2 linked regions of the Homo sapiens genome follow. The protein of the gene in region 1 interacts with the protein of each later gene in a pairwise test. Each region holds a gene or a part of one and is shown in the gene's direction. Other genes may lie near its edges.

Evidence for each region. The genes of interacting proteins can lie anywhere in the genome.
Region 2: the proteins of SEPTIN3 (region 1) and SLC39A14 interact in binary tests that used the Homo sapiens proteins (3 or more experiments, as listed by UniProt).

What each region holds. Positions count from the first base shown.
Region 1 is NC_000022.11:41,964,833-41,972,456, forward strand, and holds the start of SEPTIN3 (neuronal-specific septin-3), read left to right. Parts: upstream 1-4,610; 5' UTR 4,611-4,845; intron 4,846-6,641; 5' UTR 6,642-6,660; coding exon 6,661-7,624. UniProt on the Homo sapiens protein: Filament-forming cytoskeletal GTPase. May play a role in cytokinesis.
Region 2 is NC_000008.11:22,405,258-22,412,279, forward strand, and holds part of SLC39A14 (metal cation symporter ZIP14 isoform a precursor), read left to right. Parts: intron 1-3,052; coding exon 3,053-3,239; intron 3,240-4,688; coding exon of another isoform or gene 4,689-4,858; intron 4,859-6,779; coding exon 6,780-6,949; intron 6,950-7,022. UniProt on the Homo sapiens protein: Electroneutral transporter of the plasma membrane mediating the cellular uptake of the divalent metal cations zinc, manganese and iron that are important for tissue homeostasis, metabolism, development and immunity.

The sequences.
Region 1 (7,624 bases):
TGATCTCGGCTCATTGCAACCTCTGCTCCTTGGGTTCAAGTGATTCTCCTGCCTCAGCCTCCCAAGTAGCTGCGATCATAGGCGCCCGCCACCAGGCCCAGCTAATTTTTGTATTTTTAGTTGAGATGGGGTTTTGCCATGTTGGCTAGGCTGGTCTTGAACTCCTGACCTCAGGTGATCTGCCTGCCTCAGCCTCCCAAAGTCCTGGGATTACAGGTGTGAGCCACCGCGCCTGGCCCCCATTGCTTTTTTTTTTTTTTTTTTTTTGTGAGACAGAGTTTCGCTCTTGTTGCCCAGCTGGAGTGCAATGGTGTGATCTCGGCTCACTGCAACCTTTGCCTCCCGGGTTTGAACGATTCTCCTGCCTCAGCCTCCCAAAGTAGCTGGGATTACAGGCACGCGCCACCACACCCAGCTAAGTTTTTTGTATTTTTAGTAGAGACAGGGTTTCACCATGTTGGCCAGGCTTGTCTTGAACTCCTGACCTCGTGATCCGTCCGCCTAGGCCTCCCAAAGTGCTGGGATTATAGGCTTGAGCCACCGCGCCCGGCCCCCCATTGCATTCTTATGGCAACCATGCAAGTGGGTCCTCACTGCTGTTCACCAAAGGTTTCTGACTCTCCAGCTATCAGCACACGGTAGGATTAAACTTCCCTGCCTCCTTGTGATGGGTGGGGCCATAAGACTAGTTCTGGCCAATTAGTTGTAATTAGAAGTGAGTACAGGCCGAATGGCTGATGGACTAATGGCTAGTCCACAATTTGTCACTCCCTCCTTCCCTCTGCCACATGACTAGCAATGCACTAGAAGGCAGCCTGGGTCCCAGAGGGAAGAGGGCACAGAGCAGAGCCTTAGTGGACCCAAATTACTGTGGACATGAGACATGGATGAGAAATCAATGTATCATTGCGGCCAGGTGTGGTGGCTCAGGCCTATAATCCCAGTACTTTGGGAGGCTGAAGTAGGAGGATCGCTTGAGGCCAGGGGTTTTAGACCAGCCTGGGCAACATGGCAAAACCCTGTCTCTACAAAAATTAGAAAAATTAGGCTGGACGCAGCTCACGCCTGTAATCCCAGCACTTTGGGAGGCTGAGAAGGGTGGATCACTTGAGGTCAGAAGTTTGAGACCAGCCTAATCAACATGGTGAAACCCTGCCTCTACTAAAAATACAAAATTAGTTGGGTGTGGTGGCACACACCTGTAATCCCAGCTACTTAGGACGCTAAGGCAGGAGAATTGCTTGAAACTGGGAGGCAGAGTTTGCAGTGAGCTGAGATCATGCCATTGCACTCCATCCTGGGCAATAAGAGCAAAACTCCATCTCAAGAAAAAAAAAAAGAAGAAATATTAGCTGGGCGTGGTGGCACATGCCTGTAGTCCCAGCTACTCAGGAGGCTGAGGTGGGAGGATCACCTGAGCCTGGGTAGGTCGAGGCTACAGTGAGCTGTGATAGTGCCACTGCGCTCCAGCTTGGGCAACAGAGTGAGACCCTGTCTCAAAAAAAAAAAAAAAAAAAAAAATCAGCATGTTGTTATCAGCCACTGGGATTTGGGAATGGTTGTTACTGCAGCATAATTTAACTCATTCTGACTGATATAATCTCCATTTTACAGATGAGAGGGGAGCTCAGGGGGATTGACTTGTTTGAAAATCACATAGTTGTAACAAACCCAGGCTTGAAGGACTCCAGAGCCTATGACACTTGTCTGGGAGGCCACCACAATGGTTTTGTGGTTGAGTGGAGGCCTCTGTTCTCTGAGGCCACTTCCAGGCCTATGGATCTTTCCTTTGATGGGAAAGCACCATATGTATAGATAGGAGAGGGCCATTGTCACTTTGGGCCCCTAGAGGGCAGCTGAAACTTGGCCTGTAATTACTGGGCAGGAAGTGTCCTCTAAGCCTCTAAGCAGGGCAGATGGGCAGGAGGATGCGGAGATGAACATGACTCAGGCCTTGCTCTCAAGGCCCTAACAGCCTGGCAGGGAGCGAGATGGAGGAATTGTAGATCTTGAAGTAGAAGAGACCGACCACATGAGGGCATCTGATCCCTATTTTAAAAGGCAACTGAGTCCCAGAAGCACAAGTTAATCTGATAGACGTTGCCTGGTGAATCGTTGGCCAAAGTGGGGAGAGAACCCAGGGCCACTGATTTCAGCCCAAGGCTGCTTATCTCACAGAGATCATGTAATCCAATGGGGCTGGGCCCAGGAAAGTCTCCCTTGCTCCAATCCGTCCAGGCAGAGCTGTGCCTCTCCTTCCCAGCACCCTCTGTTCTTCCTTAAGTCAGGCCAGTTCTCAGGGCCTCAAAGCATGGAAGCGCCAGATAGCTGCCCTCCCCCATCCACTGGGATCCCAGCACGTTGCCCTGGTAACCAGAGCCCAGCCAAGTTTGAGAACCTAAAGCTGTAAGGGGAGAGAAAGGATAAGAAGAGGGATAGGGGCTGGGCACGGTGGCTCATGCCTGTAATCCCAGCACTTTGGGAGGCCGAGGCAGGCGGATCACAAGGACAGGAGATCAAGACCATCCTGGCTAACACTGCGAAACCCCATCTCTACTAAAAATACAAAAAATTTAGGTGGGCGTGGTGGCGGGTGCTTGTAGTCCCAGCTACTCGGGAGGCTGAGGCAGGAGAATGGTGTGATGGTGTGAACCCGAGAGGCGGAGCTTGCAGTGAGTCGAGATGGCGTCACTGCACTCCAGCCTGGGTGACAGAGCGAGACTCTGTCTCAAAAAAAAAAAAAAAAAAAGAAGAGGGATGGGTGCTAGGCCCACACAATCACCATTCAATCATTCATTCATTCATTATTTCTTTCTAAAGAAATTTACCGGTTGGGCACGGTGGCTCATGCATGTAATCTCAGCACTTTGGGAGGCTGAGGCAGATGCATTACTTGAGGTCAGAAGTTTGAGACCAGCCTGGCCAACATGGTGAAACCCCGTCTCTACTAAAAATACAAAAATTAGCCAGGCGTGGTGGCACACACCTGTAATCCCAGCTACTTGGGAGGCTGAGGCAGGAGAATCCTGAGGCTTGAACCCGGGAGGCGGAGTTGCAGTGAGCTGAGATCCCGCCACTGCAGTCCAGCCTGGGTGACAGAGTGAGACTCTCAAGAAAAAGAAACTTACTGAAGCCAATTTTTGCCAGACCCTGGGGCCCAGAGAAGAAGATCCAGGACCTTCATAACTGAGCTTTCCACCCAGGCATGGTGGCTCACGACCGTAATCCCAGCACTTTGGGAGGTGGAGGTAGGAGTATTGCTTGAGCTCAGAAGTTCGAGACCAGCCTGAGCTACATAGGGAGACCCCCGTCTCTACAAAAAATAAAAACTTAGCTGGGCGTGGTGGTGCATGCCTGTGGTCCCAGCTACTCTGGAGGCAGAAGTGGGAGGATCACTTGTGCCCAAGAGGCTGCAGTGAGCCATGATGGCGCCACTGTCTTCCAGCCTGGGCGACAGAGTGAAACCCTGTTCAAAAAAACTAATAACAACAACAGCAACAACAAACGAAACAGAGCTGAGCTAATATGGTAGCCACAGATTAAAATAAACTAAAAAATCCAGTTCCTTGGTCACTGTAGACACATTTTAAGTGATCGGTAGCCATCTGTGGCTAGTGGCTACTGTACTGGACAGCACAGACATAGAACATTTCCATTATCACTGAAAGTTGTATTGCCCAGCGCAGCTCCAGAAGCTCACTCGCTAAAGAGAGAGACACACAGGAGAGCAGACCAGACAACACAGTGTTGTGTGGGCTGCAATGTCCTCCTCGGTAAAAAGCAGGTGATGAGGCGGAGATTAAAGGAGATGCCAGGAGAATGCTTAGCCTAGTTCCTGACTCAGGGTGAGTGCTCGGAGGACATCTGCCATCACCGTACAGGACAGTACTATAGGATCTGTTTACATACCTATCTTCCTAGCAGACTGTGAGCTCCGCCCAGCCCTGGCATGGTGCCGGGCACAGAGCAAGTGCTCAGGAAATAGTAGCTGTTATCAGCACCATTGTTATTATCACCACTGCTATGACAGAGGCAGCCGAGGGCTGTGGGAACACAGAAGAGGGCTCCCATCCCAGCCCCAGGGCCAGGGGCTGCTGAGAGTCGGCATTGCCAGAGCCAGGCTGGGTGGCTTTGTGGTCCCCTCAGGGGCAGGCCTAGGGCGGGGTCCTCTTCACACCCTTAGGGTCTGGGTACAGGGTCCAGCTGGAGCAAGCTGGGGCTCAGGGAATAGTTGTGGAAGGAGCTCTAGCCTCCAGGAACTCCAGCCCCCTTGAGGAAAGACCAGGTGAGTGGGCAAGATGGTCTGAGGGTTGCAGAGCTGAACAGGGCATGAAGGGCACAGAGGCAGAGCCAGAGGGAGACTCGCGCTGGGACTACCAGAGTGCAGCCATATTTGGAGTACCCCTGTTTTTACTGCAGACTCCCCAGGCATCAAAGTCTGTGGGAGACAGAGCAGATTTGGGGAGGGCAGGCTGCAGGGAACCTCCCTGCAGGTGGCCGTGAGTGCCAGCCTGGCCGTTACCAGCCTCCCATGGCTCTTCAGGATTCCAGAGGCTCAGAGCAGCCATTCACAGCCGCCCACTCCTAGGAAGCCAGCCCCTCCCTGCACCAGAGCCCAGCCCAGCACGGTCTCCGGGGATGTAGCTGGTGGGACAGTGAGCAGAGGGCTGGGCCCTGTGCCTGGGGACTGTGGCCTGGAGGCTGAGCAGGAGCTGAGGAGGGGACCAGAGGGACAAGGCCCCTAAGCTGGCCACCATGGCCAGACTCTGAGTGCAGGGGAGGTGAGGGGCCTGCGTGTGCCTTATCTTCCCAGACACACTGGATCCTTCTTGTCCTCTGATCAAGGTAGGTGTGTAGGGGGGTGGAAGGGTGTGGGGGTTTGTGGGGGTGGGAGGGTGGTGGGGGTGGGGTGGGGAAGGACCAAGCAATCCATGGAAGATGGGAGTGCAGTGAGGGGATGGGGAGTCGGGTGATGCCCTCGGACACCCTGTCCTCTGGCCTGCTCTGTGTGTGGGTGTGCACACTGAGGGGAGCTGTTTGTGGCTAAGTGCAGGGTAAACGTGTGTGCCCAAGTGGATGTGGCTGTGCAGGAGGGGGCAGAAGTTCAGGGCTGCAGTGATAGGCCAGGTGGGAAAGGGTTGGAGGCCAGGACAGTCTTGGATACAAATATATGGCTGGAGAGGGATGAGGGGCTGGGGGCACCATTGTGAGGGGTGATGCCTTCCCTGTCCGGTGCCCTGCCTTCCCCGTCCCTGCTGCAGACCTCAAGGACCTGGCTACATGATCACTCCCCTCCCCATGAGCCCTCTGGAACTGACTCCTCCCACCAGCCCTGGCCTTGTCCCCCAGCTGCAGGTCCCAGCCTGCTGTGTTAAAAGCAACCAAACCAACTTTTTTCTAGAGGGTGAGTTACTTGGAGTCCAGAGTAGCAGGGAGTGGCCCATCTACTAAGACCACAGCCAGAGTCCTGAGCTTCATCCTCGACACCTCTTTGTGCCCACTCCCTACCCTGGGCAGTCCCGCCACTTCTACCCCTGTGCAATGCAGCCTCCTCCAGCCCCAGCCCTAGCTCTGCCCCTTGCACAGCCCACGGAGCAGAGAGTTTCAACTATGTCCTCATGGGATCCTGGCTTCAATTCTGTTCCCATCTGATCCCTCTGTCACACTGCCCGAGTGGCCGTTCCCACCTACAGATCGGAATGGGTCACATTCCCTGGCCTAAACTTTGCTGTAGCCTGGCCTGGACCCCAGCTCACCTGCAGCCTTGGCTCTCCCCTCCCTGCTACATACAGCCTAGGAGCCCCATGTTGGATTTTCAGAAAGATGCCACACTTTCTCACCTTTGGGCCTTCTGTAGGAACAGCCCCAGCTCAGGTCTAGCCTCCCGCCTTTCTACCCCTAATGCTTAGCTTGGTGGAGCCCTGCCTACTTCCTTGCCTGGCATCCCTGGGCATGGCAGCCTCTTCAAGGGCGGGGACCATGGCTTGTTCACCAGATAAGCTCCTTCTGTGAACACTCACTGCCTCTCCATTTCCCATCCTCACCTTCTCCAGGGCTGGCTCTGTTTCTGACTCCAGCACTAGGCCAGCTCAGGGCTCTTTCTTGGTTCTGGGGCTCTAAGCCAAATTGGTCCTCTCTCATCCTGCCACCTGGACACCTGAGCTCCTATGTTGGCTGCTGTGGGTGGGAACCCACAGCCCTTTGGTTCTTTCTGGAAGAGAAAGGGAGAGACGTCTCCAGTAAGCACTGCCCTCCTCTGGAGTCCCTGAACATGTATGTGACCTCCATAGAGCTGTCCACAGAGACAGGGGCCACACTCAGGCCCAGGCAAAGGGAGACGTAAGCCCAGCCTGAGATGCCCCATGCTGGAGGCAGACTGCTCACTGGACGTGCCCACCCCACTGTGTGGTGGCTGGCCGGGGTGGGGTAGGTATGAGGTACAGATCAGTCTGCAGCAGGTAGGAGCCGTAGGAGGACAGGAGGAAGTTACATGCATCCTCCACTAAGGACTGGACAGTCCCCAGAACCAGGCCCCTTCAGACCCGGCATGCTCAGCTGCTGGTCAGGAAGGGGAGAGCTGAGACCTCCAGGCCTGAGCTCCTCACCCCTGCCTGGCCTCTTCTCTCTGTTGATTGCCTCAGGGAAAGACAAACGACCTGGATGGACCACAACTTTGCTCCTGCTCCTCCAGAGATGCAGTCGCATGGAGCTCCAGGCCCGGGAACCTCCTTCTCCCATAGCCATGTGCTGGGGCGCCCTATCCGCCCCTCGAGACTCCCTGGAGGAGGGTCCCCCCTCACCCCCGTCCTCAGGAAGACCATCCATCTGGATACCTTCCCCCAAAGCCATATCCCACAGACCTCCAGCCGGCTGGGCCTTGGAGCCAGGACCCGGAGTGTGCCCCCACAGGAGACGGGCATCGCTCTGGGGGCTTCCTTGAGCCCCCTGCCCACCAGCAGCCTTGTACCCAGGAAGCTCAGCTCCATCTCCTTGACTCTCCATCAGAACAGCCAGGCACGGTCCCTGGATCGCCCACTTTCTCACTGGGAAGAGTTGCCTACCCCAGGAAAGAAGGCTGCTCCCCATGAAGGAGGGAGGGTGTCCTCGCCAGGCTCGCCACCTGTGACCCTAGTGCCAGGGGGCAGGGTCCACTCTGAGGGCCCAGGGAACCCAGGTCTGACCAAATCCAACAGGATGCTTGCCACGGAGAAGCCCCTGGTGAGTTCCTACCTAGCCTTACCTTTCCAATCCCGGTTAGCCCAGAGTGCACCAGTCCTTGCAGAGCCAGGCTCGTTGGGCCAGGGGCACCTTGTCTCAGTGACTGACCACATGCCTACCAGAGCTTCTCCAGGAAAAGGCAAGCCCCGGGCCAGGGGGATCCCCAGACCCCGGGGGCGTCTCCAAAGGGCCAACACGACTGTGAATTTGACTGCTATGGACACAAGGACAGACGCAGCCAGACATTTAGCCACAATGGCCACCAACAGACCTAGCTTGGCTATCAATTTAGCCACACCAAACACATCCCAACTGGACACAGGCACAGAGTTCCCTGCCCTGGATATCAAGCTGGGCACAGCCAGAGACTTGTCTTCGGTAGGGACAGTCAAGTCAGGCAAAACCG
Region 2 (7,022 bases), on another chromosome or scaffold:
ATCCCAGCACTTTGGGAGGCCAAGGCGGGTGGATTATCTGAGGTCAGGGGTTCGAGATCAGCCTGGCCAACATGGTGAAACCCCAACTCTACTAGAAATACAAGAATTAGCCAGGCATGGTGGCGGATGCCTGTGATCCCAGCCACTTGGGAGGCTGAGGCAAGAGAATCGCTTGAACCCAGGAGGTGGAGGTTGCAGTGAGCCAAGATCGAGCCATTGCACTCCAGCCTGGGCAACAGAGCGAGAATCTGTCTCAAAACAAAACAAAATAAAAGGCAGCCTGGAAGTGGGGTTCTCAGCCCCCCAGAATCTTCCTCAGCGCCGCACTTGAGTCACTCAGAAATACTGAGAAAACACGGCTCCCAGGACGGTATTTCTCATAGAGTTTACCATTGACAGAGTCCATTACACACTATCCCGGGTGAGCCCACAGTCCCTCAAGGTGCAGGTGAGATTATCTGCATTTTATAGGAGAGGACACCGAGGGTCCCGCAGTGAGTCCCTGCAGAGACCAGGGCTGGAACGCCAGGTCTTTGGATTCTGTGTTCTTTCTTCCATATCATCTCTGCTAATCAGACTCTGGGGCTATTTGTGGCAGCCAAATATAAGTCAGCCAGCAAAATCTTTATATATCGACTTTGTTCCCTGTGCTGGTGTTGTGAGAAATAGAGAAAAATGAGTCATATTTAGGGAGTTGACTGTCACGATGGGGAGTTCAACCAACAGAGGACAAAGTCAGCAGGCACTGAAATGAAGCATTGCATTTTGTGGGTTGGACAGTAATTGTAGGATGCAGAAATGAGAGGGGGAGATGAGTGTGCTGCAGTCATCAGGGAAGGCTCGAGCGTGGGGTGTCCTCCAGCTGCCCCTTGAAAGATGAGTGCAGTGTGGAGATAAAATGGACGGGGGTGCTGGGCACTGTGGCTCACGCCTGTAATCCCAGCACTTTGGGAGGCCTAGGCAGGCAGATCACTTGAGATCAGGAGTTTGAGACTAGCCTGGCCAACACAGTGAAACCCCATCTCTACTAAAAATACAAAAATTAGCTCGGTGTGGTGGTGGGTGCCTCTAATCCCAGCTACTCCGGAGGCTGAGGTGAGAGAATCACTTGAACCCAGGAGGTGGAGGCCTCAAAAGTTGGGGGGGAGGAGCGGGGCCGGGCGCGGTGGCTGACGCCTGTAACCCCAGCACTTTGGGAGGCTGAGGCAGGTGGATCACGAGGTCAGGAGATCGAGACCATCCTGGCTAACACGGTGAAACTCCGTCTCTGCTAAAAATACAAAAATTATCTGGGTATGGCGGGAGATACCTGTAGTCCCAGCTACTTGGGAGGCTGAGGCAGGAGAATTGCTTGAGCCCAGGAGGCAGAGGTCGCAGTGAGCGGAGATTATGCCACTGCATTCCAGCCTGGCGACAGAGCGAGACTCCATCTCAAAAAATAAAAATTAAAAAAAGGGACGGGGGAACCACGTGGCTTGGATGCGAACACCTGAGCACATCAGATGCTGAGCCAGAGACAAGCACGCCCCCGTGCCCCCGCGGGGTAATGCAGCTGCGTGAGCCTCAGGACCCGCCAGGATAGCAGCAGCATCTCGGGGTGGCGGGAGTCCAGCCCCCAGCCTTAGAAGCGCAGGCACTTATTTTGGGAGCACACCAAGAGGGCTGACTCTCAGAGATAAGCCCATGTGAGACCGAACTCAGAAAAGGCCTGGCATGTAGGTGTAGACAGTATAATTAGAAGTGGAGCTGCAGATTTCACAGGAACGGTTCGTGAGAAGCGCTTACCTGCTGCCTCCCAAGGTGACTGTGTGTGGTGGCTGCTGGCCGGCCATGGCCCACTTCCCTGAATCTTCAGGTTTTCCTCCCCTAACCTCTGTGAACACATATGTCTTTCAGGCTGAGGGCAGTCCTATGGTTGAGGATGTGTGGGGCTGATCGGGCAGCACCACAGTTTTGGCAGAGCCCCGCCCTTAGACATTTCAGCTTCAGAGAAGTAGCTGGAACCCGCATTTTAACATAATAGCTCCCTGGGCTATTGTGATGTGCAGCCAGATTTGGTACGAAGCTTGTATCTTCAGGCACACACACAGAATGGTGTTTTCTTTCTCTTTTGTTTTGTGGGGGATGGAGTCTCGTTCTGTTGCCCAGGCTGGAGTGCAGTGGCGCGATCTCGGCTCGCTGCAACCTCCACCTCCTGGGTTCAGGTGATTCTCCTGCCTCAGCCTCCCGAGTAGCTGGGATTACAGGCGTGAGCTACCACGCCCGGCTAATTTTTGTATTTTTAGTAGAGATGGGGCTTCAACATGTTGGCCAGGCTGGTTTTGAACTCCTGACCTCAAGTGATCTGCCCATCTGAGTCTCCCAAAGTGCTGGGATTACAGGCGAGAGCCACCGCACCTGGCCCCAGAATGGTGTTTTCTAGAAACTATACCCTAGTGACAATATTTTGCTTTTTTTTTTTTTTTAAGAGACAGGGTGTTGCTCTGTCACCCAGGCTGGAGTGCAGTGGTGTGATCATAGCTCCTTCACTGTAGCCTCCAACTCCTGGGCTCTAGCAGTCCCCCTGCCTCAGCCTCCTCAGTAGTTGAGAGTACAGGTATGTGCCGCCACACCTCACTAATTTTTCAACTTTTTGTAAAGAAGGGGTCTCATGTTGCCCAGGCTGGTCTCCAATTTCTGTCCTCAAGTGATCCGCCTGCCTTGGCCTTCCAAAGTGCTGGGATTACAGTGTTAGCCACCGTGCCCTGCCACTTTGGTGACAATGATTGGAATCTTGTCATTCCCAAAGTTTCTCAGGCACTCATTTACCGACGGTTGTGCTTATGATGTGTAACTTTCCTGGCTGGCTGAGCCATAAGGATTAGTTACTAGTTTTTTAAGTTTAGGGAATACCTTGCCCTCATCCCTAGACTAGATGAATCTACAAATTCCCTGAAATTTGGACATTTCTGTCTTCTCTTTTTCCTCTGGGAAGGCTGAGTAGGTTGCTGTTTAGCAGGGCAAGGCCTGACCTTTGGGGTCTAAGCGGCTTCCTGCCCTTCCTGTGTTTCAGTGCTTTAGTTCTGGAGACCTCTTCACTGCCCACAATTTCAGCGAGCAGTCGCGGATTGGGAGCAGCGAGCTCCAGGAGTTCTGCCCCACCATCCTCCAGCAGCTGGATTCCCGGGCCTGCACCTCGGAGAACCAGGAAAACGAGGAGAATGAGCAGACGGAGGAGGGGCGGCCAAGCGCTGTTGAAGGTGAGCCAGGCCAGGAAGGCAGGAGCCCATCTCCCATCTCGCCCGCGTCTCACAAGGACCCCTGGGCTGAGCTGCTGCTGCTCCTCACTGAATGCCTCACCAGTGATGACCAGGATGAGGTTGTCGGTGTCAGGAGCGGGAGCGATGATTGGATGGATAATTTTTGTATTTTGCAAGGATGGCCTAGCACATTGTCAGACTCCTGGGCCGTAGCTGGCGAATGTTCAGAGCGTTGGACTTCTTGAGCGGCCTATGGATCCCTTTTTGGTCTGCTTTTTGTTTCATGTTGAACCACGGGGGCCCAACCCTTTGGCTTTTTTAATCTTTTTTTTTTTTTTTTCTGAGATAGGATGTCGCTCTGTCTCCGAGGCTGGAGTCCAGTGGTGCAATCATAGCTCACTGCAGCCTTGACCTTTTGGCCTGAAGTGACCCTCCTGCCTCAGCCTCCTGAGTAGCTGGGACTACAGGCGTGCACCGCCATGCCCAGCTAATTTTTAAATTTTTTGTAGAGACACGGTCTCACTATGTTACCCAGGCTGGTCTCAAACTCCTGGGCTCAAGTGATCCTCCTGCCTCGGCCTCCCAAAGTGCTGGGATCACAGGCATGAGCCACCATACCTGGCCTACTTTGGTTTTATAGTTTTTCCTTTAAGACCTCCCGGAGGCTGCACTTGGCCCCTGAATCCTTCTTCCCCTCCCTATCCCGGTATCCCTGATCCAGCCACAGTGGGCTTGCCACGAGCTGTGAGTGTACACCCTGATAGCCCTAAGCCCCATAGGGCCGGCGTGTGCTGCCTGAGTGTCGGCACCCGGAATATACTGTCTGTGTTACTGCAAGTCCCTGTTTTCTGCTGTCGTTATTTACTTGTATGGCTTTTTTTGTTTTTTTTGTTTGTTTGTTTTGAGACAGACTTTCGCTCTTGTTGCCCAGGCTGAAGTGCGGTGGTGCAATCTCGGCTCACTGCAACCTCCGCCTCCTGGGTTCAAGCGATTCTCCTGCCTCAGCCTCCTGAGTAGCTGGGATTTCAGGCACGCGCCACCACGCCCAGCTAATTTTTTGTATTTAGTAGAGATGGGGTTTCACCATGTTAGTCAGGCCGGTCTCGAACTCCTGACCTCAGGTGATCCACCTTCCTCAGCCTCCCAAAGTGCTGGGATTATAGGCTTGCGCCACCGCACCTGGCCTACTTGTATGGTTTTTAGGCTTCCATTGCTGTTTGCATCCGTCTCTCCATGGAAAAGGTGTTTCTCTTGGATAGCAATTTTGATAGTTTCCCTAGGCTTCTCCGCAGCATCTGGTGAGAGATGGACTCAGCAAATGTTTACTGATGGGTTGGTGGATCTCAGTCTGCCCCATCACACCTGAATTCAGAACAGGGCCGCCCCAGGCAGCAGGAGTGTCCCCACCCTCAGTAATAGAGGCCCTCGTCTGTTCTTGTTCCTCCACAGTGTGGGGCTTTGGTTTTCTCAGTGTCTCACTGATTAACCTGGCCTCTCTCCTGGGAGTCCTCGTCCTGCCCTGCACAGAGAAAGCGTTTTTCAGCCGTGTGCTCACTTACTTCATCGCCCTGTCCATTGGAACGCTGCTGTCTAACGCGCTATTCCAGCTCATCCCAGAGGTGCAGTAGAACAGAAACTTGCGCGTCCTCTTTCCCTGGGGCGGCACAGCTGAGCCAATCCCCTCCTCCCCTACCCTGGGCTCCAAGGCACCCAATGACTGCCACCTGAGAAATGAACCTGTCCCTCGTATCAAAGCCACAAACGACTTCTAACTCTGGATCTCAGGGCCCACCTCTCACTCCTCTGGCCTCTGCAGGTGCTGTCAGATGCAAGGTTCTTCCAATTTCCCTCCTCCTGGGGACTTGACAGTCTCCCCTCCCTTGTTAAGCCCCATACATAAGGCATCAAGGGAAAGCAGCAGCTATCGACTGCCGTCCATGCCTTTGGTGCTAAGTACTTGCTCTATTCTAAGGAGAAATCCTGGCAGTACTCAGGTCTGGGCACCAAGAGCTTATCCATCTGGAATGAGATGGAAGGAAAAGAGGTTACCAAGTGATATGTAGAATTGGCCTAAAAAGCGAGTGTTCTTTAATTTTGAGCAGGCCATCGTTTCTAGCATAGAGAGCCAAACACAGAACAAAGACTAAGACCAAACAAAATTAAAATGACAAGATAAATGGAAGGGGCACTCAGCCCTTTGTACCTTGCATCTTGACTTTTTTCTGATAGGACTGACTTCCTGGTACCTTGACTTGACTGTTTTGAAATGTTAATTTTGTTGTTTAATTGTTATCATAGAGGAGCTATAAAAATAAGGCCCAAGTTGACAGTCTGCCCACTTTTTTAGCTCAAGCAGGGATGCTGCTGTGGAGGGTGAGGATACGCAGACGTGTGGTTGACCCCATTAGGGAGTCATGGATGCTGCCCTTCACAAAGATCCCATGTCAGCTGCTTCTCAGGCTTTCCCAGTCAAAAGACTCACCCAGAAAAGACAGCAGATGGGATGCCATGCCTTGCCTGTTCTTCCTGGTTGAATGTGAACCATCTTGGTGCCATCTCAAAATTCTGCATGGCTCTGACAAACACTTTGCAGGGGAGGCCTCAACTTGGGCTATTTTTTCAGCTCCAGCAATGGAATATATTAATTTTTTAAAGATTTGAAATGAAAGGCCTTGTGACCTCCTGGAATGGAAATACTGTAATTGTGTGTGCTCCACCCCTGTGGCCTGCCAGGGAGTGTCTCATCCTGGTCTGGTTCTGTCTTGCCCTCTTTTGGGCCTGGACAGAGTGTCACAACTGGGAAATGTTCAAGGAAATATTTTTGTGACAGGGTGTTCCTGGAACTCTGTTCTTTGTGCTTGAGCCCCTCTCAGAGCACATGGAAATGAGCAAAGAAGTTGAGAGGTTAAGACACTGAATTTTATGGGCATTGGGCATGAATTAATCGTTCTCCATCCCTTCTGCCCTGCACATCTGGCTTGGTTGTGTCTTGCACAAAGCAAACCAAGTGGTCGTGGTGTCACCCGAGCCTGCGCCGTGTGAATTGGACATGCAAAAGCAAACGCAGCAGCAGAGTGATCAGCCTCTTTCCACCTGCTTGCATGTCCTATAAAGAGAGCCCTCGAGTCCAAAGTCTGTCCTGGACAGCCTCTGTGATAGGTCTGGGCAGACCTTGGGTGTGTGACGAGGCAGCACCCTGCCCTGCCAGTCACACCACTGGCAGGAACGATTTGGGGCCACCAGTGGCCACAGGGGCAGAAGTCACAGGGTTCCAAGGCCACCTTGAATTCCTCTTTCTTCTGAACTGATTGAAGGAAATTTCATCAGATGTGAATCACTAACAAATTTTCTATTTCTCTCTCCCTCCCTACTTGTCTCTCTCTGATTTTTCTTTTTTGTTCCGTTAATATCCACCAAACTTTTCCTTGCGACCTCCCTATCTGCTCCACCTTCCTCCCGCTAAATGGTGGTTGCTGTGCAATGGGGCATGTGCCTTCTCTCCCTGCCCTGGGTGGGGCTGGCCCTCCCTCCGCACGGCAGTGTGGGGATACGGTCTCCTCTGTGTGACCGTCATCTCCCTCTGCTCCCTCCTGGGGGCCAGCGTGGTGCCCTTCATGAAGAAGACCTTTTACAAGAGGCTGCTGCTCTACTTCATAGCTCTGGCGATTGGAACCCTCTACTCCAACGCCCTCTTCCAGCTCATCCCGGAGGTATGGCAAGCCAGGGCCTTCACCCCGGAGCATGCCGGCGGGCACAGTGGGAGGACCTCCGTTTGGATAGAAG